Linked DNA regions of Homo sapiens: region 1 is linked to region 2. Evidence: fine-mapped expression QTL. Tissue or cell type: thyroid. Region 2 holds a variant in brackets; the other region holds the start of a gene. All regions are shown on one strand. Distances are from middle to middle. Region 1 holds the start of C1GALT1 (core 1 synthase, glycoprotein-N-acetylgalactosamine 3-beta-galactosyltransferase 1). Region 2 overlaps C1GALT1 (core 1 synthase, glycoprotein-N-acetylgalactosamine 3-beta-galactosyltransferase 1).

Region 1 (16,733 bases), 65 kb after region 2:
CACTATGAGTTTATTCATTGGATAAACTTCTGGCAATGAAGTCGCTGGTTAAAGGGCATATTTCTTTATGAAATATATTTTTTTAATGTACAGCAAAAAGAACCAAAAAGTATCATAAATAATAAAAAAGATAGTTAACCAAATACAAAAACAGATAAAGAAAATAAAAGATTCACAGTAAAAAATGGTCAACGATGTTCAAATTTCACTCACAAAGGTAAATCAAATGAAGAGATATTATTTTTAACCTAACATATTGGCAAAACTTTTAAAGTTTATTAACAGCTGTTATTGACACAGATACAAGAAAACTGGTAGTCCTGTATTCTTTCTCATAATACATACTTTTACTGTCTTTTGGAAGGGCATTTCACAACATCTTTTTAAATTTTTAACTAATTATGCCTTGATATATCACTTCATGATCAGAAACTTATTTTACAGATATAATCATAGAAGTCAGCCAAGATGCTCGACAGCCATAACCATAAGACGTCTGTCTGTTGATGAGGAACCAGTTTTTTAAAAAAAAGATAGAGCCATAGCATAGAATAGTAGTAGCTGTTAAAAACAATGATCTACATGTGCTGATAGGGAAAATCTTTGTGCTTTTGACAAAGGTTACTTTTTATTGTTAATAAGGTATACTGGGTATTTTTTTAAACATCAGAAAATGTAAAGAAAACAAAAGGAACAAACCTAAACAAATGAAAGAAAATCATAGACAGAAAAGAGTAAATTTTCTTTACCATCTCTACCACTATCTCTCCCCAAAAGTAACTGCTTTCGTATCGTTGGGTAATGCCTATATCATCACATATGTATGTTCAGCTTTTAATTTACATCAGAGATCATGCTTATCGGTTAGTCTGCACTTTAATTTACCCCTTCACTTATTTTATCCATAACACAATGTCATTCATTTTAACAACTGTATAAGATAAAAGGTTTATTTTTTAAGACAATGTACCGAAATATTTTCTAGTATGATTTCACTTGGCTTTTTAAATGTTTCTGTATATATTTTAAAATCTGTTAAGATATATATACATATGATATTTAACAAGAGCTATCTCTGGGAACTAGCACTGGGTGGCATGAGCAAGGAAGGACAAATTTTTTTTTATTTTATAACCTTTTGATGTTTTAATTTTGCATCGGGTACACACATTACTTTTCTGATAAAAATTAAATAAAGGGAGGCAATTTTTATCTACAGAGTGAAATAATATGATAAAAATTAAAGTCCACTAATTTCTCCACACTTGTCAAACAAAATGATCTCTTGATCCTTTCAGACTTCTCCAAGTTTCAGATTCACATACACAAATGCCTGCTAAATACTTCCACCTGGACCATAGGCATCTCTAATTCAACACCTCCAAAGTGACTCATTACTTTCCTCTGCTCATTTTACCTTAATTACTGGTAATTACCTAAATTATTCACCAATGGGTTCCTATTTCACTCAGAGCCACAGGATTATCTAAACTACAAAGTACACAGATATTCTTAATGCTTCCCTTATCTTCACCCCAAATCCAATTACCAAGTCTTGCCAACATTACTTCCTAAATATTATTCTAATCCATTGTCTCCTCTCCATTTCTAGTATTTATCCTATTTCAGACTCTCCTCTCTCCCCACAGGCTATTACAATATCTAACCTCTCTGACTCAAGTGCTATCCCTCTTTAACTCATACCCCGTCACCAGAATGAGCTCTCTAAAATGAAAAGCTGACCATGTCACCCCATGAATCCTTTCACGGAACTCCACTGCCTACAAGACAAAAACTAAACATTTTTTATTAACATGATATATAAATAAAGGCTATGACCTAGAGCCTGTCCAGGTTTCCAGCCTCGTCTTTTGCTATTCTGTGCCTTATAATTTATGTCTGCTTCAGCAATCCTGAACTGTCTACAGTTACTGAAAGGTTCCCAATATGGTCAGCTCCTCTTCCTACTGTCTTCTCTGACTACAACACTTGCTTCCCACCAACCTCTGTAAATCCCATTAAACTAAGGTTTCTTAACCTTGGCGCTACTGACATTAAGAGCTGGATAACTCTCTGTTGTGGAAGCCGTCCGGTCCTCTGTAGGATATTTAGCCAGCATCCCTGGCCTTTACTCACTAGATGCCAGTAGTATTCCCCCTAGTTGTGACAAACAAAAATGTCTGTAGACATTGCTAAATGTTTCCAGGTAACAACCTCTCCACTAATTTGTTAAAACTGTTTCTCACATTTACATAAAAGATCTCCCCTGTCTCTACTAAAAATACAAAAAAAAAAAGAAATTAGCTGGGCATGGTGGCAGGTGCCTGTAGTCCCAGCTACTGGGGAGGCTGAGGCAGGAGAATGGCGTGAACCCAGGAGGCAGAGCTTGCAGTGAGCTGAGATCGCGCCACTGCACTCCAGCCTGGGCGACAGAGTGAGACTCCGTCTCAAAAAAAAAAAAATCTCAGGAAGAATAGAGATAAGACTACTTTTAACACTAATTGCCTTTGAGGAGGACAACTGGGTAACTGGAGTGGGATGAAAAAAACTTACTTTTCAAACCATTTACTGTGCGTTTTTAGTCTTGTACCTCTTCTGACTTCTCCACTGCTATCACCCTGGTCTGAGCAACCTCTCTGTCTTTTAACTACTCCAACAACATTCTAACCAACTTTCCCCTTCCTTTAGCCTTTGCTTCTTTGGCCCATTTTTACCAATAGCCACAATGATCCTTTTAAAACTGAAATCAGATCACATCACTCATTTGCTCAAAACCCTCCCGTCTTCCTAATCTTAGAGAGCCAAAACCTTACAAGGATCTACCCACAATCTGCATCCTACTCCACCCCTTTCTTTCTGATCTCTTCTCCCCAGTATTTGGTGTTTTTGTAGGTCAAAAATGAACAAACAGCAGCAATTTCATAGATTGAACCTAATACTAACTGCTTGTCATTCCTCAAACGTGCCAGGGTCTTCACACTTAACTGTTCTCTGCTAAGAACACGCACCCAGGTGCTCATATGGCTCACTCTCCAACTCCTTCAGGTCTTTACTTTTCAGGAGTCTTCACTGGCCACCCTATGCTTACCCACAGCACCTATTAATATCAAATATTATTTTACTTATTCATCTTGTTTACTGTCTCTTTTCCATCTTGATCAGTGGTTCTGAAACCTGAGTCTCCATCAGAATCATTTGGAAGGCTAGTTAAATAAAGAGTTCTGGGATGGAGCCTGAAAATTTCAATTTCTAACAACTTCCCAGGTGATGATGATGCTGCAGATCCAGGGACCACATTTTTAGAACCCGTGTTTCAGAATGTAAGCTCCATGAGGACAGAGATTTTTGCCTATCCACTGTTTTATCTCCAGGACCTGGCACATAGTAAGCACTTGCTGTGGTCTGAATGTTTGTCTCCTCCAAAACTCATGTTGAACCTTAATCACCACTGTGGCAGTATTGAGAGCTGGAGTCTTTAAATGGTGACTGGGTACTAAGGGTTCAGCCCTCATGAATGGGTTATCATGGGAAAGGAACTGGTAGCTTTACAAGAAAGAAAGAAAGAAAGAAAGAGTTCTGGGCTAGCATGCTCGGCCCCCTCACCATGTGGTGCCCTGTGCTATCCTCAGGACTCTGCAGAGTCCCTACCAGCAAATGCCCTCACCAGATGTGGCCCCCTGAACCAGGACTTTTCAGCCTTCCTAACTGTAAGGAATAAATTTCTTTTCTTTATAGATTATCCAGTTTCAGATATTCTGCTAGAGGCAACAGAAAACAGATTAAGACATCACTGATATATGTAAATAAATGTAAGTGTCCCATCCTGTTTCCACTATAGCCTCTGATTCAGTCTATAATGCTAAACATTTACTGAACGATGTAAAAGATAAACCGTGCAACTGTTACAGGTTAAACTGTGTCCCCACAAAAGATAGGTTGAAGTCCTAATTCCAGTACCTCTGCACGTGACCTTATTTCAAAATAGGGTCTTTGCAGATGTAATCAAGTTAAGATGAGGTGATTAGGGTGGATCTTAATCCAATACGACTAGTATCCTTGCAAGAAGTGGAGCACACCATCTGAAGACAGAGCCACACAGGGATTATGTTGTGATAACAGAGTCACAGACTGGAGTGACATAGCTGCAAGCCAAAAAATGCTAAGGATTGGCAGTAACACAACAAGCTAAGAGGCATGGAACAGATTCTCCCCTCGAACCTTGAGAGAGCATGGCCATACCTACATCTTGATTTCAGACATCTTGCCTCCAGAACTGAGACAATAAATCTGTTGTTTTAAATCACCCAGTTTGTCGTATTTTGTTACCGCAGCCCTAGAAAATACAATGACCAAGAATGCAAATAACTATGCCAAGCTGTATTTAATTTCAAATTCTGCCTATTATCCAACATCTAGCCGTTTAAATGTGCTTTAATATACAGGTTTCCCATTCCAGAATCTCCCTAATATTGCCTCTCGTTGCCCCCAACACGCCCCTTCAATGTGCAAGGCAGCACATACTACAGGTGCTAGATAATTTATTTAGACTTTCCTTTCAGTTTCCCCCACCTTCTTATGTGCTTCCCTAAATCACAAACACCAGTTTCTTTATATATTTTTTTTCTCCCTCTTCCTATTCTCACATATTACAGATTTTGGCATATATATTCCCCTTGGACATTTGAATTAGCTGCAAAATAATTTAAGTACACATTGGAGTTCCTCTCTAACCAGATTTTAAGATAAAAGGCTAACTTCTCATTTTATGGAACAAGTCTCCTTCCCGCTCCCCACCTTTCTTCTTTTAAAAGAATGACTTAATCCCACTGAATTTGAAGTAAAAAGATTTTTGTCATACCTTTCTTTCAGCCTTGCTATAGTTTGTACATCAGCGTCTTTAATCAAATCTTAAGAAATCTTCTAAAAGAAAAGATGGTTGTATTGGGAAGCTTAAACTTTTAAGCCTATCTGAATTTAATTTCAGCATCAAGCTTTCCATTTTCTACTTAAGGTTTATTTATAGCTGCACTGTCACAAAAATTCCAATCAATGATTTTACCACACAAAGACTCTAAATTACCATGGCTTATAATGTTAAACTGCATAATGCAATTTTAATTTTAGCACAAATCAATACACAAATAGTAGCATGTGCCTAGTGACATACTTTTTCATATTTCTATTAGGTAAACAAGAACTCATTATGTGTACCCTGAAATAAATTTGTGATACAATTTTAAGAATAACTGGATATTGAATTTACTCAACGTAGTCTAGTCTTAAAAAGCATAATTATGAAAAACTTTAAATAGGAAACACAAAATATTTCTAAAATGCTTAATCCTAAGTAGGAAGATACAAAAAAATACACATTCCAGGCAAATTTGAGAGGCATTTAGTAGCTCTCCACTAATACTGAAAAATTATTCTCTTTATGAAGAATTTTAAATGAGTCATACTTTCCTTACTAAGTCATTGTTTCACTTACCATAAGGTGAAGAGTTAACTGTTTGCTAACTTGAAACTTTATATTCACTTAAACTGTACATCTATATATAAAGACTGGTAGAAAGTATAGTGTACTATATACAATATTTAGAACATACAGCATCATGGGCATTAAGCTCAACTGCCATTTACCTAAGAGGGTGAAAAGCTGTCATCTAAATACCTTCTAAAAACTCGGATTCCAACTTCCCAAACTCACACCAGAATGAAGCAACTTGAAATTATGCGCACTTTTTCCTGGCAGAGCTATGTTCTATGCCCAACTTTTAGTAAGTTAACATATTTCTCTCCCTTACACATCGGCCAATTATTCATTGATTCATTATGGTTCTAAATTTATAACTTTTAAATTCATAATGAAATCAATCCATGGTTAGCACAATAGTTTTCTATCTTAAAAAAGCGTTAAAAGGAAATACAGTAGTATGTACAATGGATATAGAGAACTAGGTTAGAAATCTTGAGAATTTTTCCAGGATGTGTGGGTTTTTTGTTGCTGATACTGTTGTTTGCTTTAAATGCGGGGTGGTGGGGGGTGGGGAGACGGTAAGGACCAGGAAAGAATAAATCCACAGCGCTAAATTATGGTCATCTTTTAAGAGTGTACGACTTACCCAAATTCAAAGCAAATGGACAACTTGTCAACACCTACTAATTCCATCACAATTTGTTGGGGAAAAATGGGGTGCAGAAGCAAAAAAAAAAAATTTAATGCCTTTCTTCCTCCTCCATGCCCCGAATGCCCCAACACACACGTATCTGCTTCACTCTGCGGCAGGGAAACTTAAAGAAATAAATCAGCTACAGACAAACCTGATGATCCAAGCTAGACCCAAGCAAGCTCCAGGCACCTCTGGAAGGAGCCCGCTCGCTGGGCGCTCAGGCGGCGCGGCAGCCGAGTGGCTCCCCGGCGAAGGTGCCCAACACCTGGGCGCCCAGTCCGGCGGGACCCACAGGTCTGCGGCGGGGCGGGGAGGGCCCGGGAGGAGGGACTGGGAGGGCCCGGCGGGGCAGGACCGCTAAGTGGTCCGGTCCGGGCGCACTGCGCGCCCCGCCGCGCCGCCAGGCAGCGCGCGAGCAGAAGAGGGGCGCGAGCGGGCACAAGGGAAGGACCCACGACGAAGAGGAGGGTACATGTCCACAAAATTGAGGCCGGGTACGCAGCCGAACGCTGTGGCAGATCGCTAAGGCTCCGGGAGCGGGAAGTCCTCGCGCCTTCCTCAGGAGCCCGGACGACCCCAGCCCGGCTTTGACCCCGAGACACCTGTTCCGCCGCGCCCGGGGTTTGGTTCCATCCTCCACGCTTCCCCACCAACCCGGAGAGGGGGGAGGGCGAGGGGAGACGAGACCTTGGACCCGTAGCCTGAGGGCGCCTCCGCCGGCCATACCTGACATCAGCTGCGGCTCCCTCTCGCCCCTCCTGGGGGGCGGAGAGGGGGACGACTTGGGACTGGTGACCTTTGCTTCTCTGGGCAGCCGCAGAAGTGGCTCGTGGCCGCTAGCCGAGGCCGCCCGCTGCCGCCCAGATTATTCCCCGGCAGCGGCAGCACAGCGGCGGCGGCCAAGGCGGGCCCAGCGCGCGCTCCCGCCCGCTCGCTCCGCCCCTCCCCGCAGCGCGTCCAGGCCGTGGCCCGCCTATGGCGCAGCCGCCACCCGAAGTCTCCTGGCGCTGACGTCTCCGCCGCCGCACCAGCCCCAGGGAAGGGCGGAGCGGGAGGGGCGGTGGGCGGGGATACGGCGACGTGAGGAAGCGGGGATTGGCTGCCGGGTGCACGCTCCGCCCTAATGCGAAGGGGTCTGGGAAGTCGGATCTTGCACGAGCAGTAGATTTTGTTGTATCCCCCTTGCGGCTTGTGTCTGCTACTCTCCGCATTTCTGATCCTGCTGTAAGGTTATGCACTAGCTTCAAGACCTTGAGCGGGACGAAAGCAGGGTAACAATAGGGAGCGAGAAAGGGGATGCTTGAAGGACCTTTGTCTGAGGTACAGGCTCTAACCCTGCAGGACTCTTGTGGCCTGTAGCCTGCTCTTAACCCGTTCATTTGTTTTTCTGTTCTCTCCCCGTGCTCTCTTTACTCAGTATCTCTCTGGGCTTAATAAAAGGAAGTAATAAGATGAAGTATGCATACGGGTGCTGGGTCATCATGTGAGAACCAGGAAGAGCTGAGAACCGAGATAATGATACCAGAAAGCTTTCTATAGGCACATTTCGTCTTTGGTTCTGTCAGCACTTCGGTTCTGTGGGGCAATGGCCGGAAGAGCTTCTTAGGGGCGTAACAAAACCTATCTCCCCTTTCGCTGGGCTCTGAATAAGGAAGTTGTCTTTGGAATAGGGGGAGGAGGCTGCCACCTGTTGAGGCAACCCCACAATAGTCATGAGGTGAGGGTAAGGTTTAGTCTTTACTGGCGTTAACCATTATCTACAAGACCACGTTCCAGAATAGGAAAGCTACCCTGCTTCCTTTAAATGCCCTATCCAAGCGGTTCTTTAGTACTCTACAGCATGGTTGTTAAAGAGTATGGGCTCTGAAATCAGACTGCCCGGGCTGGCATCTTGGTCCCTCCACCTATTGGCAAGTTACTTAGAATGCCTGAGACAAATAATAATATACATTAGTTATTGTTATTTTTCCTTTAATTTGCTTAGGTTCAGCTGTAGTGTAGTTTCTCAGGACATTGCATCAATATATCCAAAAGAATTGTGAAACATAAAGCACATGTAGTGATTCTAATACAGATGTCTCATTTTTCAGATGACAAAACTAAGGCCAGAAAGATAAACTGATAGGTCCATGTTAGAAGAGAAGTGCAGCTATCCTGATGTCCAGGTTATTGCTCTTTCCTTGGCTCATGGGTCCAGACTTCTCTGCCTTACATGATTACGTCCATTCTCTACTCCTCCCCAACTTGTATACAGTTGTTGCTCAGCCTCCTCCCCCTCCACCTTTCCGCAATATCCTTCCACCTTTCCGCAATATCCTTCCACCTTTCCGCAACATCCTTCCACCTTTCCGCAATGTCTTGCCATCCATTGTGAAACATGGAAGGAGAACTCTTTCAGGGGTCAGTGTTCCAAATAGAAACCAAAACTCACAACTCCTTATCTCGTTTTAATTTTATTAAAAGTTATAATTAATAAAGAATAACACTTTTTTCCATTGAGCAAAGATTAGAACCCTTTCCTAAAATAAGGTCAGCCACAGCCTTATCCTGGAAAATTACTTGCTAGAAACAATACTGGACCAAATCAGCCCTGCCCCCACCCTGCCTTTCTTTGAAAATAGCTTTTTTTTTTTTTTGAAGAGATATGGTCTTTCTATGTTGCCCAGGCTGGAATGCAGTGGCTATTCACAGGTGTGATCTTGGCACACAACAGCCTCGAATAACTGGGCTGAAGGCTGAAGCAATCTTCCCGCCTTAGCCTCCCCAGTAGTTGGGATTACAGGCACAGGCTGTGGCACCCAGCTAATAACTATTGTTTTATAAAAACAATACATGCTTATGCAAACAAATTTAAAAAATTTAAACAAAAATGCAAAGAAGTTAAAATCTGTCCAAATACCATAATATAGAGATAACCATTTCTTAAATTTTGTGTTACATTCTTCTAGGCATCTCTCTAAGAATAAAAGCACATATAGACATATAAATACAATATTTCATAAATTGGATCGTATTATCTGCACAGTGAACAACAGTCATGAATAACATCATTTTTAAAAGTTGCATACTGTCTGTTAAATGGATATACCATCATTTATCCAACCAGTATTCTATTGATTGACATTTATGTTTCCAAGTTTTTACTACCATAAAAAAAGTCTCTGATGAACATTCTTATCCATAGGCTTTTGCACAATTGTGCAATTATCTCCTTGAACACATTCCTAGAAGTGACATTAATGTCAGCCAATTCTTCGACATTTTCAATTAGAGAATAAAAATTGTGGTTACTTTGAAAAATATACTTTATATGTGGGACTCAAAACTGACCAGATTCTCCCATTTGAAACATACTTGAAACACACATAAACCTCAGTATTGTTGTTTCTCTTGTGTCTAGTGTTTAATAATGCATGTCAAAACTCGTTGGAGTAGGTCGGTAGACATTACTAGTTGTCTAAACCAAAATCCTTTCTTCTTTACTAGTAGAACTCTGATTTCTTCAGGGTGACAATGTGGCCAGTTAAAAATATTCATGCCCCTAGACTTTCATAAGTCATGGCTGGCCATGTGACCATCAATTAAATAAAAGTGAATTTCTGTAGAGGAGACTCAAGGAAAGCTTTATGGAAGAAATATCGCTTTAGCCATTTGATATGCACCCATCCCTTTTTTTTTTTTTTTTTTGAACCTGAAACAGGGACATGATACTGGAGGTAGAACAGCCATATTTCACCCATAATAACAAAAGCCACACAGACACTATTAATAGTGTAGGACACCAGAGGTGCCTAGGTCCATGGTTGCTTTGGAGGGCCAACTTACCAGGTCTGGACTATCCACTTCTGGATTTGTTGTTAGGTGAGGAAGATTATATCCCTTCTATATAAGATTTTGTTATTGTCTGTTGTAAGTATCAAATGCAATTCTTAGTTGACATAATAAGATAGGCCAAGTCATCATTTATTTAGCACTATATATAGAATTTTTTAATAGACAGAATGAGGTGAAAATGGTGACAGAAAATGCAAACAAGCTAGCAACAACATTAAAACATTGTCTTCTTTAATAGACTTAGTTTCCCTTTAAATACCTACATTTTACAAATATATTAACACCAGTTTATAATAATTAAGTTAAATTTCGTGTATTAAATTTTATTAACTCATATGGTAGTATTAAAATATGTTCACAAATTATTTGATACTTCTTCCTTCAAAGGGTCAAACTTCATTCCCCTCACCTTGAGTTTGGACTGTATTAAATGACTTGTTCTCATGAATAGAATGTAGTGGAAATGATGTAATGTGACTTCTGAGGGGAGACTATAAAACATGCCAGACTTTTTATTCTTTCTCTAGGATTACTTGTTGGGGCCAGGTAGCTGTTATGTCAGAGTCATAAGGTCACTCAGGCAACTTATAAGGAGGCTCACATGGTGAGTAATTAAGGCTTCTAGCCAACAACCGGTGAGGTATTGAGGCCTTCTGACAAGAGCCATGTGAGTGAGCTTGGAAGCAGATCCTCCAACCCTTCAGGCCTTCAAATGATTGCATGCATCATGGTCAACATCTTGACTGTAACCTAGAAAGAGACCCTGAGACAGAACCATTCAGCTAAGGTGCTCCTGAATTCCTAGGCCACAGAAACAGTGAGATACTAAATGTTTAAATGATTGTTGTTTTAAGCCACTAAGTTTTGGGATAGTTTGTTATACAACAATAGGTAACTCATACAGCTGGATATAATAGAGCCTAGCACAATGCCTGGCACACATGCAGGTGTTCAATTATTTGTTGTTTGAATGAATAAATAATTGAATGAAGTATATCTTTTTCACTTTAGTAGGTAGCATACAATGTTAGGATTATCTTTGCTCCCTGACACCTGTATTATCTAAGGGTTTTTTGATCTCTTATAGAGAGATGTAGTGTGAATCTTACTGAGAGCTAAACTTTGCCAGTTGTGGAAGTAACATGGTGAATAGAACAACGGAATCCTTGAAACTTGAATTCTGCCCCCAGTTGTTTTTCCTCAATCAATTTTTTTTAATTTTTTAAAAATTAATGAGTTAACACAAAATTAAACCATGTCTTGAAACCAGACAGCCATCTTGTCTGCCATCTCCAAGCAAATTACAGATTGACTCATAATACAAATTTGCCCAGAGGGCTTGCAATACTATTTCACAAAGTTGGCTGTATTATTTCTCTTCACAAATGACCAGTCTGATGCATAGCATGTTTAGCTACAGATGCCTCTGATGACTCTCTCTGCAACATTTTCATGGCTCGCCAACAGGTCTGTCTACATTTCTCAGGTCTACCAAGGGGGCGGTTCAATTCTGCTTTGATGTAATCTATCCAAAGATCAGAATCTACAGATCTAAATTCTCTCAAAGCCCTCTGTTGCAGAATTCCTGCATTCTTGCTCCTTTTCAAACTGGATCATTTCCTAAAAAAGTCAACTAAAAATGGATGGCTCTCCTGTAAACTTTTAAACACAGCTCCAGCCTTTTTGTAGCCACCACTTTGGTAAGCCCAATCCAGGTACTTATCTTTCAGTGCCCCCAGTTTTATCACTGATTAGCTGGATGACCTGTAGTAAGTCACCTAACCCTTCTGAATCTCAATTTCCCTATCCACTAACTGGGGAAAATTATCCCAATGTACCCCAAAAGGCAGTCAATGAGATTATATGTAAATATGCTTTACATATAAAGCATTAGCATTCTTTTAATTAAATTAGGCTGATGAGGTCTACCTGATGTTTAAGCAATTAAGCATTAAGTATTTTACATGAATACCATGGAGACCTTTCAGGAAGTGACAACTTATTTACTGATTTTACTGTGTACTGTATAAAATAGTAGCATCATTCATAGCAAGCAGTTTGGATTTAAGAGTATGGCAGAATGGTAGCTTATATGTCAGGTCTCATTTTATGAGCCTGTTGAAAATTTATTACTCTTTTAAAAGAATGCATAATTATCACTGGCTCCTTTTTCTTTTTCATGAATTAATTTGTAACTGTGGCTGAGTATATCTGCTCCTCTTTGTTGTGACAGAGGTACTTAAACAAACTTAATAACAAACATATATATAACCGGTTATTTGAGTTTATGAGTTCATCCTAGAGCAAAATTGCACCCAATAGCAAGAAAATAAATGGCAGAAAACATGTCTTTCTCTTTCAGAGGGCAGAACTTAGGGCACACAGGGGAAGGCTTTATATACTGGAACATCAAAGGTAGAGATGAGGCAATTATTAACAATGCACATTTTTGTGGCATGACTAACCTGAGAGGTAAATATGTTAGAATGAGTAAGACAGAGCCTTAGTGTGAGACTCAAGTCCTGATTATGTAGTGGATGAATGGCCTTAAATACAAGGTCCCTAATTTAATTGTATGGTTTTTTCTTGCTTTCAGCTATTCAGCTGTGAGCCCAAATCAGTTGAAACTACTGGCCTAATTAGATATCAGACTGTTTGTTGTTGTGGATGATCCCTGAGTAAGAAAAAGAAGAACTCTAGGGGGAAGAAAGGGACAGAGCTTCTTGCACCTCATTTCCTATGTTAAATTAGGGAGTAAGTGAAAAATGGACACCAGGAAACAAAGATCAGGGAAATCCTTCTGGCAACATTGTGCTTTTAGACAGAGCTTCTCGTCTCCTATTGAAAATACCTGACAATGCCACCCTGTATAACCTAAGAGAACATTTTCTAAACAGTTTTTATTCCTTGTAGCTACATCTTTACAAAATTTACCAAGATTTTGAGACAATTGGAATGGCTGGTGTTGTTTTCTGAATTGACTGACAGAGGAATAGGGTTAAGATGGAGAATAGAGCAGAGGAAGAAATAAAGAAAAAAAGTCTAGGAAATACATTTAACCTCGAGGGAAGAGGACTCAGTGTGACTCACAGCATATTAGCTTGAAAGCAGAGACTGTCACGTGTGCACTGAGGAACTTGTGTCATCTAGAAAAATATTCTCAGCTTACGAGGCTAGAATCCCTGGGGTTACTCTTTGTTCCTCTAGTTCCCTGGAATAAGAATCAGGAGTGTTCCTTAATTGTTTTCTCAATTGATGAGAAACAGAAGCAGAAACATTTGTTGTAAGTGAAATAGTTGAAGTTTCTTTAGTTTGAAATCCCAAAGGAGTAAATTATTTATAAATGTATATGTTGCATCTGTTATTGAAAAGAACTAATTGACTTACAAATTGTGTAGCTGCATAATGTGGCATTTTTTTTTTCTTATTTCAAGTTGTATTTCTAAATCTAAAGGTGGACCTATAGTAGATACCTTTTCTTGTTTCTATTCATCCTCCATAGAGAAGCATCTCCTTCCTCGACCTTTTTCCACAAATTCCCATTTTGCTGAAATGGCTCACAGAACTTGGGCAAATACTTTACCTATGTTTACTCACTTATTATAATGGATACAGATGAATAGCCAGATAGAAGAGATGTATAATGTAAGGTATGGAAGAAATGGCATGTAGCTTCCATGCTGTCTCCAGGCATACAAACCTCTGGGAACCTCTATGTGTTTGGAAAGCCCCCCAACCCTATCCTTTTGGGGTTTTACAGAGGTAATAAAGGTAAAATGAGGGGATAAAGGTAGGGCCTTTTATCCAATAGACCTGGTGCCCTTCCAAGAAGAGGAAGAGTTCTCTCTCCCCATTATGTAAGGACACAGAGAGAAGCCTATCATCTATAAACCAGAAAAAAAAAAGCCCTCAGCAGAAACCAAGTCAGCCAGAATGTGGATCTTGGACTTGCTAGCCTCCAAAAGTGTGAAAAATAAATTTATGTTGTTTAAGCTATTCAGTTTGTGGTATTTTGTTACAGTAGCCCAAGCAGACTAATACAAGGGGCTACCTGAAGGATTGATGCAAGATCCTCTCCTCTGTTTTGCTAACTCAGAACCTAGGGCAGAAAAAGCTGGAAAACACAGCAAACTGAAGTAATAACCCTAGACACCTGGAGGCAGAGATTACAGTTGAAACATGCAATAGACTGCCTAAGGCAAAATCTGGAGAGAGTTTCTTTGGGAAATTAAAATATTCAAAAGCAACCATATATACGTGGGAATTTAGAAAGCCATGCACATGCCCAGGGCAAAACACTTGCTTAGAAAACACCTGAGAAAACCCTAAGCTTTCATTTTGGGCTGATCCCTTAGCACAGTGCAAGGCTAACTAAGAATTGAAGTAGAGCCCTGGCTTAGAGCCACTTTGCAAAGACTGTGAGAGCTTCTGGCATTCGAGGAAATCTGCCAAAACACTAGCTGAACACAGGCTAAGGGACAGAGTCTTCCATGACCATATTGACAAGGAATACAGTCTTTGAAATAATAGTTTGAGACAGGCATCAAATAAACTGACTGCTACAGCCTTCAAGAACCAGAAAACAGCAAACCCCCCTAGGAAAGTGAAGAAAATCTAATTTCTAGTTACCACATCATAGGAGCCAAATGTCCACTTTTCAAGCTCACACACAAAAATCACAAAGCATACAAAGAAACAAGAAAGTATGGCTCATTCAAAGGAACAAAATAAATGGATAGAAACTGTCCCTGAGGAAGTCCAGACATTGGAATTACTAAACAAAAACTTTAAAACAATTGTCTTAAATATGCTCAAAATGCTAAACATGGAAATGAAAACATTGACAGTGAACTAAAGGAAGCCAGGAAAATGATGTATGAACAAGATGAGAATATCAACAAAGAGATAGTAGTTATGAAAAGGAACCAAACAGAAATTCTGAAGCTGAAAAATAAAAATAAAAAAATCTAAGTGGCTTCAGCAACAGAACTGAGCAAGCAGAAGAGTCAGTGAACTTGAAGATAAGACCACTGAAATTACTGAGGCTGAGGAGCAGAAAGGAAAAAGAATGAAGAAATTTTCATTTGTTGTTGGAATGCAAATGGTATAGCTACTTTTTTTTTTTCTTTTTTAACTAGAGATGAGTTCTCACTATGTTGCCCGGGCTGGTCTTGAATTCCTGAGCTTGTAATCCTCCCACCTCAGCTTCCCAAAGTGCTAGGATTACAGGCATGGGCCACCACACCTGGTTCAGTGTAGGCATGTTGAAAGGCAGTTTTCTTACAAAACTAAATATACTCTTACTATGCAATCCAGCAGTTGGGCTCGTTGTTATTTACCCAGATCAGGTGAAACTTATGTCCACACAAAAACCTGCATTTGAATGTTTACAGCAGCTTTATTAATAATTGCCAGAACTTGAAAGTAACCAAGATGCGCTTTTATGTACCCTTCAGAATTCCTATGCTGAAGCCCTAACACCTAGTGTGGCTGTATTTGGAGATGGGGTCTCTAAGGAAGTAGTGCAAGTTAAGGGTGGAGCCCTGATCTGGTAAGATTAGTGTTCTCAAGAAGAGATACCAGAGCACTCTCTCTTTCTGTCTCTCAGCATACACGAGGAAAGGCCGTGTGGGGACATAAAAAAAAAAGACGGCTGCCTATAAAGCCAGGAAAAGAACCCTCACCAGAAAGTGAATTTGGCAGCACTGTTGTCATGGATTTCCAGCCTCCAGAACTGTGAGAAAGTAAATTTCTGTTGTTTAAGCCACTCAATCTATATTATTTTTTTCCTATTTTAAAAAAATTTGAGATGGAGTCTTGCTCTGGAACCCAGGTTGGAGTGCAGTGGCATGATCTCGGCAGGATCACTGCAACCTCCACCGCCCAGGCTTAAGTGATCCTCCTGTCTCAGCCTCCCGAGTAACAGGGACCAGAGGCATGCACCACCATGCCCAGCTAATTTTTTGTATTTTTTATAGAAATAGGGTTTCACCATGTTGCGCAGACTGGTCTTCAACTCCTGAGCTTAAGTAATCTGCTGCCTTGGCCTCCCAAAGTGCTGGGATTACAGGCATGAGCCATTGTGCCCAGTCCAGTCTGTACTATTTTGTTATAGCAGCCCAAACAGACTAATACAAGGTAAATGGATAAATAAACTGTGGTACACACAGACAATGGAATACTATTCAATGCTAAAAAGACATAAGCTATCAGGCCAAAAAAACACATGGTTGAACCTTGTGTTAATCCATTCTTGCATTGCTATAGAGAAATACCCAAGACTGGGTAATTTATAAAGAAAAGAGGTTTAACTGGCTCATGGTTCTGCAGTCTTTACAGGAAGCATGATGCTGGCTTCTGCTTGGCTTCCAGGGAATCCTCAGGAAGCTTGCAATCATGGCAGAAGGTGAAGGGAGAGCAAGCACATCACATGGCCAGAGCAGGAACAAGAGACAGAGGTGGAGGGGTGATGCCACACACTTTTAAATGACCAGATCTCATGTGAACCAGAGCAAGAACTCACTTATTACCAAGGGGATGGCCATTCATGAAGGATCTGCTTCCATGGTCCAAACAGCTCCCACCAGGTCCCACCTCCAACATTGGGGATTACATTTCAACATGAGATTCAGGCAAAGAGAAATATCCAAACTATATCAAACCTTAAGTGCATATTGCTAAGTGAAAGAAGCTAATCTGGAACGGTTGCAGACTGCATGATTCCAATCA
Region 2 (16,170 bases):
GGATACTCCATTTTCTATGATGTGATTATTACTTGTTGCATGGCTGTATCAAAGTGTCTCATGAACCCTATAAATACGTACACCTACTATGTACCCACAAAAAATTTTGTTAAAGTACATAGCTCAGGTTGTTCAGGGAAGATAAGAAATTGCATTTAGTACAAAGACCACTAACCTGGGAGTCAGGAAAATTGAGTTCTGTTGCCACTTCTGGCATTATTTGTGTCATTTTTCTAAACTTTAACATCTCTAGATCTGTTTCTGAATCTTTCAAACGAGGCGTTAGAACATCTTTAAGCTCTAGAAATCAGTAGTCCTATATTTTTATGTGGGAAAGGGCTCAGTGTCTTCTATTTCCATGAATAAGAGAATAAGACTTAAGCCAGAACAGATCTAAGAAAGATATGAAAATAATCTGACACAAGGATTTGAGAATAAATAGTAACTTCCGAGTACTCTTCACCCTTGGAGTAGAAGGAGAGAAGGATGCTAAGACGGGTCCACATGAGGCTGCTGGTCCTTTGTATGGGTCAACTATTTACCACTCTTGAAGATGGATACCTCCTTCATCTACCCTCATTATGAACTAGTTCAGCAGTCTTTATACCCTTGATTGAAGAAAGTAATTTCTTATGGCAAGATAAAAGAATCCAAATCAGCTTTGAGATCTTTCCAGCTCATGTGTGTACCTGCTTACCTCTACTGCTGCTTAAGAATGTCTGTGGACATTCTTCACCACTGGTTGTAAAAACCCTAGGGAGCCAGGGCCAACAGCTTTTTTTTCCCACTTTACTTCTCTAAACTGTGACAGTATAAACATGATTTTTTAAAAGTTCAAAAAGGAAAACAGTGAATTATTGAATTTCTTTCCAATCCTAGTACCCTTCCCCAAAGGTACTGCCAACAGTTTTTGTATATTCATACATTTATAAGTTAAATCATATTTTTCCTTATTTGACATCATATCTATGTTTGGTCTTAATTCTGTCATCTATTGTAAATTCTCCCTTTAGCTCTCTTATATGGCCTGTGTTATCTTTAATTTTGTGTTTTCATTTTAATAGTTATCAGGCTTACAGTTTTGGTGATTACCTTCATAACTATTCAGAATATTACATCCCTATTTCTTGATATATTATCAATTTTACAAAATTTCTATTCTGAAAAGTAAAACCAATTAGGGCATGTATATATTACCTCGTCTTTGATATTCTATTTTCTAACTTGTTAATCATCTTTTCTATATCAAGATTTATAACATTTCAATATGCTTCCATAGCCTTATTTAAATAATTCTATAGCTACATAGTTAAATAATTAACCACCACCAGTCCTGTTCTCAATGTTTGTCCATTTATCTCTTTAGATGGGCTTCATCATCTAGATTTTTCAAGAAGTGTCCACCCTCACTCTTTCAATTTACCCTTCCATTTGAAATCACTTGGCTTCTTCCTCCCCCAAGAATCTGGTAGAGTTTGCTTCACTCTGCTTTAGCACTGAATGTTGCTACAGAGAAGCCTAAGTCCAGTCCGTTCTTCCTCTCTCCATCTCCCCCTCCCAAAGAAATCACTCAATTTTGTTGCTGCTAAGATGACATTCCCCTCTCCCTGCCCCCAGGACAATTTGCAGATTTTGGCCACATCAAGAGCAACTGTATTTTTTTGAAATTATAATGTTAAAATTAGCATTTGTTACACGATCTCACTTTAATAAAACCATTTCTATCTATTTAGCTTCCTATCCAATTTATATTTATGCATTAATTGGAATTACTTTGGGGGGTGGTGGGGTTTGGGGTCCTTTAAAAATTTTCATCTTTGAAATGGTCATCTGCAATGAATGTTTAAGTTTTTTTTAAAATAATGGAGCTTATCACTTTTTCAATGGAAAGATGACTTATCTAGTAAAAGCTGGTAGTAAATACACAAGATACAATGATGCGTACTTTTTTGTACGTTTTGAAGAAAAACTAACACAAAAGAAAAATGTTAAATGTTTAAAAAGAGGAAACAATTTCTCAAACACCTCCTCTTGATTCTGACAACTTGGGTGGGTTAATGGGCTTATGTCATAGAAATGGCATTTTCCCCCCTCCATATCAGGACACTTCATAAACTTTAACAAGAAGAATAAGCCAGAAGTTTTCTTAGCAATATGAATTAAGAGTATAAAAGCCATTGAATGATGTGGATGGAAGTTTTTACATGGTTATGGCTGCATATGGAAATGAAATGATTTAAATTGGCCCCTTTCGAGAAGAGTCTCTTGCTTCACACACTCCATTCTTTCTTCTATGTAGCATCTGGTACTTTCAGTTCCCCTTTTGTGTAAAGTGCTGGAGGTTAACAAAATACAGTAGTTCCCCCTTAACCACGGGGGGATACATACCAAGATCCCCAGTAGAAGCCTGAAACAGTGGATAGTATAATCCATCCACCAGGATTGTAGTAAGAATTACATGGGATAATGCAATGTAAAACAATTAGCACACTGCCTGAGAGTATAACTCTACTGCACACAACTACTTTTTTGGGTACTTTGCTTCTAATAGAAGGTGAGTTCCTTGACAGCAACAAATATAATTTGCCACTTTATCCCTATTATCTAGCTCAATACTTTTAGTAGGCACTCAAATGTTGGTTAAATGATTTGGAGCTAAATTGTCTGGCGTTTAGGTAAGGAATAGCAATTTTTTAAAAAGGGAATACATGCTAGGTCAGGCTGTGGAAGGTCACATAATCTGAGGTTATATTCATTTTATTCAACAGGTCATAGTGACCATTTTTAAGATGTGAGAGAGGACTGCCTTAATACTGAACACTGAAATCTTTTATCTATAAAGATTAAGTTTTTCTCCCCACTGGTTTTCAGGTATTTAAGCACCCATATTTTCACTGAGTAGGTTCTAGAAGGAAACATTTCCTTAAGAAAGAGGAAACTGCAGGATAATGTGGGCATCGATTCTTTGAGTGCTATCTCTTCTTTCTTTCAGCAACTTCTAGGCTGGTGAGAGGGAACTGAGGTTCACAAAAGATACACAATTTTTTAAAAAGTCTTAAACACATCCATTTTGATAGAAAATAGAGGCAGCCGGGCATGGTGGCTCATGCATATAATCCCAACACTCTGGGAGGCCAAACTGTTTAAAGACCAGCCTGGGCAACACAATATGACCCTGTCCCTACTTAAAAAAAAAAAAAAAGAATGGGGGCAATAAAAAGTCTTAAGAAACTAAAGACTTGCTGCTGCCAATCAGAAGAAAAAGAAAGGGTAAAAGAAAAAAACATGGAATGAGAGATGAGTAGGAGAAGGTTCCAAGAGCTATAAATTCAAAGGCCAAAAAAGAGAGAAATTCCGTCAGGCAAGTAGGTTTGTAAAAATTACTTTAAAAATCAGGAATTATATCTGTGGCCAATTATTCTAAACACATAGTTACCTTCACTTCATCAAATAAACCACTTATTATATAAACCTAATCAACATGAAAATGCAGTGGTTTTAATACTTCAATTACATTAAAAATCCAGTTATTAAAATATAATCATAACCATCCTTTTTCTTTGTCTCTGACATATACATACCCACACTCACCTACCCACACCCCACCAAAAAGTATAAAAACAAGGAAGAGAGTCATGTGTAGAACTAAAGGAAAAGTTGCATATTACTTCTCTTCCAAACCTATGTTCTGGATTTTATCACCACCTTTCCACAATCTAACAATTAGACAAGAAAATTAATAAGAATGAACTGTTAGAGGTATAGAAGGGGAGACAATGCAGTTTAGGTAGTTCTATGAAAAAAAATTGAAGCTTATGAAAGTCAAAAACTGATTAGTTGTAAAAATGAAGACACTGTACCCAAATTAGTTCTACGATAGCACATCATTCGGCAGTTCTAGAAATGAAGTACTGTTAATCTTTCACTAGGCATTCATTAGAAAAGCCAAAGAGCCTAAGTTCTAGGATTGAATCTCATTTTTTAAAATATGAGTATTTTGTTATTTCAAAGTAAGCTGTTGTATTAACCTGCACTATACAGGGGCAATATATAAGAAAGTATATAATGCCCTGGACAAATTTTCAGTCCTGGAGAAAAGCAATATTGATAATAATACAAGAAACACTAGCACATTTTGTAGAAGAAATGCAACACAGAGACAGTTTTAAGTTCTAGGCAGCAATACAAAATGCGTTAATTAGTAATAAACTCATGGCAAAACAAAGTTCACTTCTGTTTTACTAATACAGATGCATCTGGAGAATGCCAATGTTGCTGAACTCATTCAACTTTAGTAGTTAAATGTTAGTTCATTCTTAACCACTAAAAAAATTTCCCTTGAACAATCCATATTGTCAGCATTATTAGACTTTAAGACGACCACTATGTTGAGCTCTGTAGAGTACTTCCCTTTAACAAGGAGATAAATTCAGCAAGAATCTTCTTGTATGCTTTCCAGTACTATGAAGTCATACCTTTGGAAAACTTAAAATAGGTTTAATTGTATATATTTAGGTAAATATATCTACTTTCCAATGACTTAACAATTATCAGTACAGCTGGTTGGAAAATATTTAGCTGTCTGAATATGTTAAATTATACAACTCTACTACTAAAGTAGTATGAAGTGGTATTTATCTCCTCAGCTTTTCTAAAGCTGTCTAATCCAAATAACAGTGTGTATGCATGCTTGCGTGTGCACACACACATGCTAATAACATACTGGGTAGCAGATTACTGAAAAATCAAGACATATAGGCTAGACTCAAGGGCCTTATGGAATTTGTAACTGTTTGCCCAGAAAGAGATAAAATACTAGGTCTATTTTTATTCATATTCTGAAACTCCCAGACAAATCTATCAATACACCTGAGCTCTGGATGAAGTATGCCTAAAAACACAAAGTTTTTTAGCCTATAGTGTACATTTCAGTAAGCCTTCACTTACACCTACAGCATGATTAAGCAAGGGTGGAAAGTTTTTTTTTTTTTAACACATAGTTGGAGCAAATAATTTCATAGATAAAAGTAACTTCTGAAGTATATAAAATGTCTGTTATTCAACATTCAAGTCTCTGCTCAAATGTTACTTCCTAGTCTTCCTTAATACCCCATCCAGAAAATTGTTCTGATAATATTTTTATTTTCCTAATACCACTCTATGAAATACTTTGTTTATTCATCTACTAGCTTATTTTCTAACTCTAGAATTAAGACATCCTGTATGTCTTGCTCACCACTGTATTTCTAGCAGATGCCTGGCATAAGTATTTGTTGAATAAACTAATTTCTCAGTGTATGAGATAGATCAAAATATACCAAGGAGCACAGAAGCAATCTCTCTCTAAATATATGAGATTCTCTCCCCTCTTCCACCCCCACCCATCTAGACACACTTACCTAGACTACAGTGTTTCTAATTTTTTTACAGTATATTATTCTCAGTCAGAGGTGGAATATTTTGTTGCTTTAAAGTAAATAATACATATATTGCAGTAAAACTTATGAAAGCCAATTCAAACTAAATAGCTTTGATGGGAAAACAATTTTAAACTTTTGGAAAAATAACCCCAAACTACCCATAAAAGACAACATTTATCTCACAACTTTTATATTGGTTAAAAATAATCAGATGAAACAACTTTGAACATGGCAATTTATTTTATGCATTATTTAAATCCGCTGTTTAAAAATGTTCAAAAGGCACTTCAAGAAACATTTAAAAATACATTTTTCTGACTTAATGGTGATCACTTAAAAATAAGCAAGTCACCAGACATTTTTAAACCATTCGTAACACCATTACCTTAAATAATTTTTAAATTCCAAAACACGAACATTCACTATGTAGTACAACACACTGCTTAGCAGTAAGATTAGTTTCCCTCTAATAATATACTTCATGTAGATTATTAATTTGCAGGGCCCCGCAAAGTTATTAAAACTTAATATAAACTGAAAACTAGAGAGGTAAGGGAGTTGAAATAGAGCAAAATTCAACTCTAAAACTTTAATGTTGGTTGCTCTAAAGAGAATTTGTAAAATTCCTTATTCTAGCCTGTATTAAAGTTTTTATTTCAAATCTTATATATAAACACATTTTTAAAAAATCAACAGAGGTTACATTAACATTTAGCATAAAATCTACCACAGGTTGCCTCCCAGATTGCTTCACTATGTTTCTGTCAGGCCTACTATAAAGTAGAAAAATAAAATGAGTTTTGTTTTTTGTTGTTGTTTTTGAGAAAAGGGTGAGTGGAAGAACCCAAATAACTTTACTTCCTTTAATAATTGTAGACATAGAATTAATTTTAAATTATAGATTTTTAAGTAGGGCAAGTATCTCGAGAGCCAGCAGGCATTATTCTTAGACTTTTACTTTCAATTTCATAGGGAACCCTAGTTAGTAGGCTTAAAATTATCAATTAAGTGATAAAAATTCTAATCACTATTAACAGCCAAATTAACCTTGTGAAGGCAGCATTTAAGAGTAACTAGAAAATGGAAGTTAGTAATAAAGCAAACAAAGAAGGGCAATAAACACCAGGCAGAAACTGTCAAAGAATTATAGTCTAATGAACTGAAAATTGAAATGGCAAATAAAATGCTAGATGTAATTTAATCAAGGGATTCTTTCAAGTACAGTGCATCAACCTGGTAGTAACTATAGTTTGACAGTCTCAAAGAAGTGAAAAATTAATATTCAAGAAAATTGTGAAAATAACCAGTTAGCAAATTTACTGCTCAAATCCAATTCTGTATTCAAAAAATATTAAGAGCTGATCAATGATTTATTTTCATACCTCATTACAGTAAGAAAAAGCCCTCTGAAATTTATATTTGAAAGCAAACTGGGACAAAAATCTGCTTTATCTATGAACTTCCCACTAGAAAATACAAGCATACCATTATTAGAGAACATAAGACATCAAAAGCCTTATGTTTTAAAACCATACTGAAATCATTTACCAAATAACAAAGATCTTAATCTAAAAGATAGTGAATACATCATCATCATGAAATCTGGTTTTATGTGCTCTATGAAGTACTTGGAGAATTGCTTTTTTATTTTTCTTTTGCTTTATTAGGTCACACAAAACAGAATGAATTAGCAGAAAAATGTATGTTATAAAACAGCATTTACTACTTCAATTTAATTTTTTTTACTAACAATTGTGGACCTTTTTGATGACACTTATGTATGTTTTTAATAAATTATGTACTTATTAGTACTTAATGAGCCCTTCCTGCCTCAATATAAAATTACTAAACTTGGAGAATTACAGATTTTATTGTAGGCCCTGATGTTAGTCACTTTGGAGAAGCTAAAAATTTGGCCAAAATGAATGATCCAATGATCCTTTAAGTTATCTTTATATTTAATATAGTGTGATCCTGGACTACACTGATTTAAAACATGCTTTTTGAAAAATGTCTTAGTAAT[T/A]GGGCAGTAATCTTCAGTGTGTTTCAAACACTACTTGCACCAAAATCACGTAGGTTGTTGGGTATTGGTTCTCAAACTAGGATAAGAAAGACACCTGCAGAGTTTGCTTAAACACAACTGCTAGCCCCTGCCCCTGCCCCTGCCCCTAGAGTATCTGATTTAGTAGATCTGATCTGAGATGAGGCCCCGAGAGAGGCTGCATTTCCAACAAGTTCCCAGGTGACGTTAATGCTGTTTGTTGGGACCAGACTTTTGACAGTCACTGCCCAAGGTATCTGGTAAGAATGCATACTCTTGGGCCCCATGCTTAAATTTGAATTTCTGAGATTGGGGTCTTCAGATCTGCATTTAACAACATCCTGGGCAAGTGTGAGAACCACAGTTTAAGAATCACTGTGACAATTTGGCTGGGTTAATTTGACTATTACTGGCCAATGCATCAGACGTCATATATCATATACATAAAAATGGAAATAATGCTACATGAATAGCCCCAAGCCTGATACGGTTCCAATGAACACACAGGGTTTTGAATATAAATCCTACCTCTGTTACTTACTAGCTTTGTGACAGTGACAAAGTTACTTTGTCTCTGAGCCTCAGTTTCCTTATCTATAATAGGGGTATAACACCCAAATTTTGAGGATTAACACTATTATACACAGATTATCTAAGCACAGTACCTAGCATACAGTTGGCATTGGATAAATACTAGCTATTACTTATTTCCTTCAGTATCTGGTCAAAGCAAATTTTTCATTCACTTAAATGCAGTACTTACACTCCAAGGTAACAGAATAATAATACAATCTTCTATTTATTGCTCCCTATCAATGTTCTAAAAACCTTACATTTATTTAATCCTCATAAAAATCCTGTGAGGTAGGTAGTATTATCATCCCTAATTAAAAGATGAGGAAATTGAGACACAGAGAGATTAAAATTGCTCAAGGTTACAAAAACAGTAAGTGTTAGAGCAAGAATTTAAACCCAAGCAAGTCTGACTCTAGAGCCCAGGATTCATCACAATATTCATTTCCTATGAGCAAATCTCAAGGTTTTTGGATATCTATAGTAAACCATTTATACTTCTAGTCAAGTAACACATATGAAAATTCATGTCCACACCATGGTGAAGAGTTGTTCAAAGAATAAAATGAATGCCTTGAAATTTTGGCAGATGATACTACCATGATAATAGGTAAAAACTGGTGCATGTTTTCACTACGTGGACAGAGTAGTCCATGGTTAACCAATGAAATGAACATCCTCTCAAATATACCATTCAAAGAGGTCATGATTTTGACATGTTTTGGCACAATAAATAGAAATTACTTAGCCGGGTGCTGTGACTCACGCTCGTAATCCCAGCACTTTGGGATGCCAAGGTGGGTGGATCACCTGAGGTCAGGAGTTCAAGACCAGCCTGGCCAACACGGCAAAACCCTGTCTCTACTAAAAATATGAAAACTGGCGGGGCGTGGCAGCGCGTGCCTGTAATCCCCGCTACTCGGGAGGCTGAGGCAGGAGAATCGCACCACTGCAGTCCAGCCTGGGAGACAGAGTGAGACAGTCTCCGAAAAAAGAAATTACTTAGCTAAATAGCAGAGTCAGTGGCATGACTGCCATGTAAAATTGGCATAATGATAAACATGAGGGAAATGTAAATACTTTGTACCATAAAAATAATCTCATAGAAAGTCTGTAAAATATTCTGCTATGACACTCAGTACTGCTAAAGATAATAAAAATAAAAAATTTCTTTCCTTTCAGAAACTCTTTAAACAGAGTCACTAAAAATAGAATGAAACATTTGTGAATGTTTTTGATGACAGTCTTGACTAGGTATTCTGCATTGTTAGAATTATCCATTAGCAAAACAATTATCCCAAAATAGCACCAACCTTCAGACTGTTATTTATAAATTAAGTATCTACTCTTTCAAAATATAACATTTTTGTTTAAGCACTCTACATTTTCTATTGTTTTTAATTCTCATCAAAATCTTGCTTTCTAAATAATCTTGCCACTGTAACTAATAGCCACCTCAGATCCTATAAACTAATTTTAAAACTCTGCTTTAAACAAGTTATGAAAGGCACAAACAAGTTCTCATCCCAACAGGATGAGAATGAAATAAACCATAACTATGTAGTTGGAAAGAGTTTAAAATATCAATTTAAAATGTCACTTAGTAATTCCTGAGAGTGGCACTGTTATAAGAAAAGCATCCTGAAACAGCATTAAATTTATTATTAGTTACCCATAATGAACAATGGGCAAATTTGGGAACAAATATGTAAAATACATGTTTACAGAATGCTATGAACGGTTTGAGTAAATTAATGTTAATAGTGGAGAATGGTATTCAAGAGTGGCTAAACACATTTAGAAAAGAGACAACAGAGATTGCGTAAAAGATGACTAATTAGAATCAAGTATATAATATAGTCAAGGCCCATGATAATTTTAAAGTGTGGTTTTATTAATGCACTTCAGGGTAAGTGCCAGTCTTATTTTAGCTTCTTCTGGAAGAAATACTACCAATTATAAATAATCACAGCAACATTTTCATTAGACAAAAACTGTGTGTGTGGGTGTGGTAGGGGGGTATCATTTATAGCATACTGCAAATATAAACTCAATTCTTGAGCTATATTAACAACACTGAGCAACAATATTTCTTTCTAAAATTTTCTTTTCTTTAAGGCAGATCTGTTTATTACTAACATGGTGCAGTGTAGTTTTAGTAAATTTACTATTTTAGTTTCTCAGTGACAATAACACAGATGGTCAGAAAACAGGCAACAAAATCTCTTTTCTAGTTCCTCTACCTGGCCACCATTTAAAAAACACAAGTTCCTCATATATATAGACATATTTATATATTACTGTATCAAAACACATTTTAACACACTTCACAGCTCATTTAAAGCTTCAGTTTATAGTCATTCATGTGAAAGGTTTCTATAAGGAATGTTCACTTAGAATTCCTCACTGGGATTCCAGTGTTCTATGTCAGAAATGCAGAAGTCCTTTTTCAGTGCAGTGCTAGACATATTACCTTTGTTCATTCATGATTTTCTTTCAAGGATTTCCTAACTTCACTTTTGTATCTTCATTTTTGTTTGCTTGACTAATTTCCTTTAGTATACGTTCAGGTAAGGTAGGTTGATATCTGTATAAATAACCATATGGACGAAGATGATAAACGAGGTATTCTAACTCATACATGGTTGTAGAATCAACATAGTGAAAAGAAACTGCAAGATCAGAGCAGCAACCAGGACCCTAAAAAAGTAGTGGAAACAGGTATTGTTAATAAACAGCACATTGCTAGCTACAATATTTACATACTTATAAAGGACCAGCTAATTTTAAAAGAATACAAACATTAAAGATGGCAAGGTAAAGCAGAGGAACCTAATGTACTAGACCTGTGGAAGAAATCAATAGTTTACTTAGACATCCTAATGATTTAAAACCAATTGAAATTGGTGAAACCAAGTGAAACTGTGGAAAGTATTTTTAAATGAAACAATATTCTCTCACACTCTTTAGCGGATAAAATTACTGAGATTTCTTCAAATCAAAGGAGCAGCTATACAAGGAGAAATCTCCTTCTCCAACATCTGCTTTCTCTTCCTCATTTTCTCACTGTAATTTTTTGTGTGGCTCATACTCGGAAACATACCTCTAGGGCATTCAATGACTACAAAGCCTTGCCCATTAGGTGTCTACAACCCAATACACTTCATCTATATATGTATCAACCCAAACAGTACAGTATTTGAGACAAAGCTCTCAACCTAGACTTGGGTTTGAACCCAAATTTTGTGGGCTAGTATACGACCTTGAGTAAGTTATTTAATCTCTATAAGCTTTAATTTCCACATTTGTAAAAGGTGGTTATTTAAAGGAGACAATGTGTGTAAATTACCCTTTGCTTAAAATAAATGCCCAATAAATGTTAGCTATTATTGACTGAAAAATCATATCAGGTGGCCCTAAGGTAGGTCAGATTTAAACCTTTGTCCAGTTATGTAATTCTCATAAATTCCTAATAGGGTTGGTATGAGAACAAAGTTTAAAATAAAACAACAACAATACAACGAACAAGAAAGCAAGAAAATTAAGAAGACAGAAAAAGAGATGAATTAAGCAGTCAACCTAGAGTCAGAATTGGTATCTGGAGAATGTTGGTGTCATCCAGGTGACTCCAACAAAACTTCAGGCTCCATCTGACATCTTTGTAAAGAATGAGGGAGATAGTCTGGCAAGTTCCAAGAGAAGATTCATATTGACTGAATATTTAATAAATCTAATAATTTATGTTTGGAAGTATGTAGCTTACAGTGTGTAAAAATTATCAAACTGTCCACTGCGTTTTCTCTGCTGTTATCTCTAAACTTTCCTTTGAAACACACACTGGATATGTAGATTCTTAGACAACCTACTCTTGCACCTTTAGGAAATATCAGAATAAAAGCAAATAGGAAAAATAACCAGATAAGTCAACTTGTGATTATCTAAACTAGCTCTGTCCAACAGATATGTAAGCCATATAGTAGCCACATAAAAAATGTAAAAAAAAAAAAAAAAAAGTGAAATTTCATTTTATTTAACTGAAAAAGTTCATCATACTGTTTTAACATGCAATAGTTTTGCGATGATTAATGAAACCTTTCTTGAAATTAGGTGTGTATTTTATTTACAGCATATCTCAATTTGGACTAGCCACATTTCAAGTGCTCAATAACCACACATACTTAGTGGCTACTATACTGTCCAGTGCATATTAAACTTAAGGACTAGACCAGTAATAGTTATAAATTGCTGACCTCTGGAAGCAATTTTTATATTCTGTAAAATAATATTTTTGATAAGATTTACTGCATTAATTATATTGCTCTTATTTATTTATATTTTACTGGATGGCCAGGATTCTGTTAAGCATTTATGCAATAAAAGACAATAAAAGTAAAAAGCTATAATTATTAGAAAACAAGAGCTAGCAGACAATTATGGTTACCCAAAAAAACTCAAGAATCTCAAGTGAAGAATCATCAGAAATAGAGAATTCAGTTACAAAGCCAGATTTTAAAGATGCTTAAAAAGAAAATCAAACAAATAAGTTTTCATATATATCAGTAAAAAGTTAAGTCTTTAAAAGCCCAAGTAGAACAGTAACAAAAATATTGCATACCTATGGAAATAGTTTATAAAACTTGACCAAAGGACCTAAAAGGTGACTTACAAAAAATCCTGGGCAAAGATGTTATTGTCCCTAAATTAATGAGTTTGTATGCAAAGATAAAGAAATGAGTTGCCAAAACACTTAGAAAAAAAGAAGAGTTAATTTGCCCTTAGAATAGTAACTTAAAACTGCTGTAAAGCTACAAGGTTCAAAACAATATGGTGCTGGGCCAAAATCAAATGAGAACAATGGCATAGAAATGAAATCCCAGATTTAGATCCTACTATAAGTAAGGTTACAGTGTATGATAAGGGGGACATTTTAAATCAGTAATGAGTTAAAAAATGGTAGTAGAATAATTAGTTAACAATTTAAAAAAATCAGGAGCTCTCTACCTCACTTATGTACTAATATGTTTCAGATAGAATAATGTAAATAAAACTGAATAAAGTAGATCATATTTGACCATTTCTGACCTACAGAAAAGTCAATTTTTCATGTAGAGAGATATATATGTAAACAATTACACATATATTTTAAATCTACCATATTAAGACTCACTGCAACTTCTCTGGTGAAAAGTCTATTACTAAGAAGGTGGAGTGGGAAGGGAACTGCTTAAGAGTCAGTTCTGAACAAGAAATTTAGGAATGTAACTCTTTCATGAATTAGAATATCTTTTACCCTGACTTGCTAGATAAAAATTTTCTGTATTTTCAGTAATTAGTATATAGAAAAAAAAAGTATGTATAAGATTTAAACTCATTTAGGGGGAAGAAAACTTACTAAATGATAGATGGATAATAATAGAATTTTAGTTTCACGTTGGGTTTATGTAAGAATCTCCTGAGGGAGAACAGGCAATGTCAGATTGATGGGTCAATTTTGGTACTCTGAATTCTAATTCTGTTTTATGGTCTTCAACATAATTTGATAAATTTCTAGAGAAAGAACAAATTTGCCAATTATGATGTCCCTTTGCTACTACTGTATGTGTATCCAACATCAGATACTCTTAGTAAGATCTTATATGCATTTGGATGTATTTGCTACATGTTTATATTCTTGAATTTGGGTAAATTTTTTATATGGGAAAAGGATACAGAATTAAGGAAAAAAGATCAAGTCATCTTGGAATGGTCAAAATATATTAAGAAAAGTTTACATCAAAAAAGCATCCAAAGTAGTACTCTCACTAAAATAGAAAAACAGACTATCAAAAGTTTCCTTTTAAAGCTGATTACCTAAAGCTTGGGTCAGATGTTCTAGGCCAGGGTCTCTGAACCATGGTACTACTGACATTTTGGGCTAGAGTAATTCTTTGTTGTAGGAGGCTGTCCTGTGCATTTTAGGATGTTTAGCATTTAGTAGGTTTATAATGTAGTGGGTTTCTACCCATTAGATGCCAGTAGCAGCCTCCTAGCTGTAACAACCAAAAATGTCTCCAGACCTTGCCAAATGTCCTCTGGGGGCAAAATTGCCCTGGGTTGAGAATCACTGTTCCAGATGATGATTTGAAAGCATTGCCTTATGAAGATGACAGTAGTAGCATGAAGTGTATTATTTATACGTTAGGTCCACAGAAAAGAAGGCATAGAGAACTAGTGACTTGCCTAAAGGCATTATTAGTAACAGAACTGAGCCTAAAAGCTAGGTTCCATGATTCCTGGTCTCATTCAGTTATTCACTGAAGCAATGCTTATAATAGTGAACACAGCAGACATGTAATTAACATTGATAAATCTCAATGTTGTGTGAAAAGGGCAAGTTGTAGAAAGATATTTATTTAAAAATCTGAAAAACAATACTATAGCATTTTCTTCTTTAAATAACTGAAACAAATGTGGCAAAAAGATTAATATTTGGTAAAGACAGGGGATAAGTACAATGTATATTCTGAAATATTTGTACTACTGGAATACTTCCTAAAATAATGCACTTTAGATAAAATTCTCAGGAATGTGAGCCAAGGCTTATTAAATGCTTACTGTGTGAAGGGCTGTACTATGTTGTAATTACAACAACTAAATAAGACAGGTACATTATGTCCATCTTACAAATGAGGAAACTGAAGCTCAGATGTCATCCAAGGCTCCTGTCCATCCAAGGTTGTTCGGCTATTAAGTGAGAGAGCAGGATTTGACTCTAGGTCTTTCTGAACCTCCATTAAATCCTCCTGATGACTAGAAGGCTCTTTACCCAGATCTTCACCCAACTTGCTCTCTAATAACACTCAGGGTTCTGCTCAAAAGTCACCTCTTTGAGAGGCCTTCTTAATCACCCAAACCAGAGGACTCCATCCCACTCTGGGTCACTCTCCATCCCCTTACTTGGCTTATTTTTCTTCAGGGCACTTACTACTAAAATCCTATTTTATATTTACAAGTCTGCCTGTTTACTGTATATCTCCTCATCCAGAATGTAAGGTTCACGAGAACTGGAAATTGGCTGTGATTTACTTCTACATTCTCAGTGCCTGGCATATAACAGCATCAATAGCTATTTGCTAAGTGACTACTGCTGATTGCTGATGTCCCTGTTCTCATCTATTTTGTTATACTGCCACTCTATTTAAAAAGACTAAGGAAGAGTCCTTGTTGTTGGTACTAAAGAAACATACACATATTAACATGTTTTTATCAACAAAATTCAGTCAGTCCAAGTATTGACATAGTAATAAAATTTCTAAACTTACCTCTACAGGAGGATAATAGTTGTAATTCCAGTACCAAAACGTTCTAGGTAGATAACCTTTAATTAAATGGTGTTCTGGCACAAAGGGATGAAAAGTTTCTTTTCCAATGGTATCTCTGGAATCTCCTGCTTCTACATTCATAATTTCCATGCATCTCCCCAGTGCTAAGTCTTCAATGGAGGAACTATGTGTACACTTGTCTGTTTTAAATGCATCAACAAATCTTTTCAAGGCTTCTTTGCTTAGTACATATCCTGCTCCTCCACTCATGTAGCCCTGCTTTACATAAGGCTTAAATCTTCTCCCAAAGTAAATGGGTTCTTCAGGGTCGTATTTTGAAAGAAGCCACCTCAAATTGTCTAGTATGACATACGTGTCATCATCTGCTTTCAAAAACCAATCAGCATCTTCTAAATAATGTTCATGAACATACTGAAAAGCTTTAATTGTTTTCCAGTATAGTTGATCTCTGCCTTCTTTGGTTTTCAGTCCCACAGCAGGGAAGTCTTTATTTTCTTCTGAACTCATAAACAACACTTTGTTACAACGCTGGGCCCAAGTAGCTTTGACGTGTTTGGCCTTTTTCTCTAGGTTTTGAGGGCCGGTCATAACCCAGCAAAGAATTCTAACTTTCTGATAGAGGTTTTCAGCAATGTCTGTGTTCTCATCTATTAAACAAAACATTTTAAAAGGTTATTTACATAGATGTAAAATCCAAATATTAATAAATTATACTGAAGAAAGCACTGTCCTAATTTCAAAGTCCCTATTTATCCCTCTATTAGTGATTTAGCCAAAGGAAAGCAAACTCATCCTAATGTGAACTGACACTCTG

What was found. PIP is the estimated chance that this variant, and not a neighbour inherited with it, causes the effect.
Region 1: C1GALT1 starts here. The variant in region 2 is fine-mapped to the expression of C1GALT1 in thyroid (GTEx, PIP above 0.99). The same link has a PIP of 0.9 or more in adrenal gland, aorta, atrial appendage, cerebellar hemisphere, cerebellum and cerebral cortex.

The regions. Positions count from the first base shown.
Region 1 is chr7:7,172,984-7,189,716 of GRCh38, reverse strand. It overlaps C1GALT1 (core 1 synthase, glycoprotein-N-acetylgalactosamine 3-beta-galactosyltransferase 1), which reads right to left and starts at 7,173. Exons shown (of 4, transcript NM_020156.5): 1 at 6,897-7,173. RefSeq lists silencers at 6,384-6,603, 6,824-7,433.
Region 2 is chr7:7,238,088-7,254,257 of GRCh38, reverse strand. It overlaps C1GALT1 (core 1 synthase, glycoprotein-N-acetylgalactosamine 3-beta-galactosyltransferase 1), which reads right to left. Exons shown (of 4, transcript NM_020156.5): 3 at 15,336-16,003; 4 at 5,642-10,734. The coding sequence ends at 10,531. Among named protein-coding and RNA genes, the nearest start is that of LINC03016, 9.0 kb to the left of the region's middle. The variant T/A (reference allele first, on the strand shown) is at 7,444.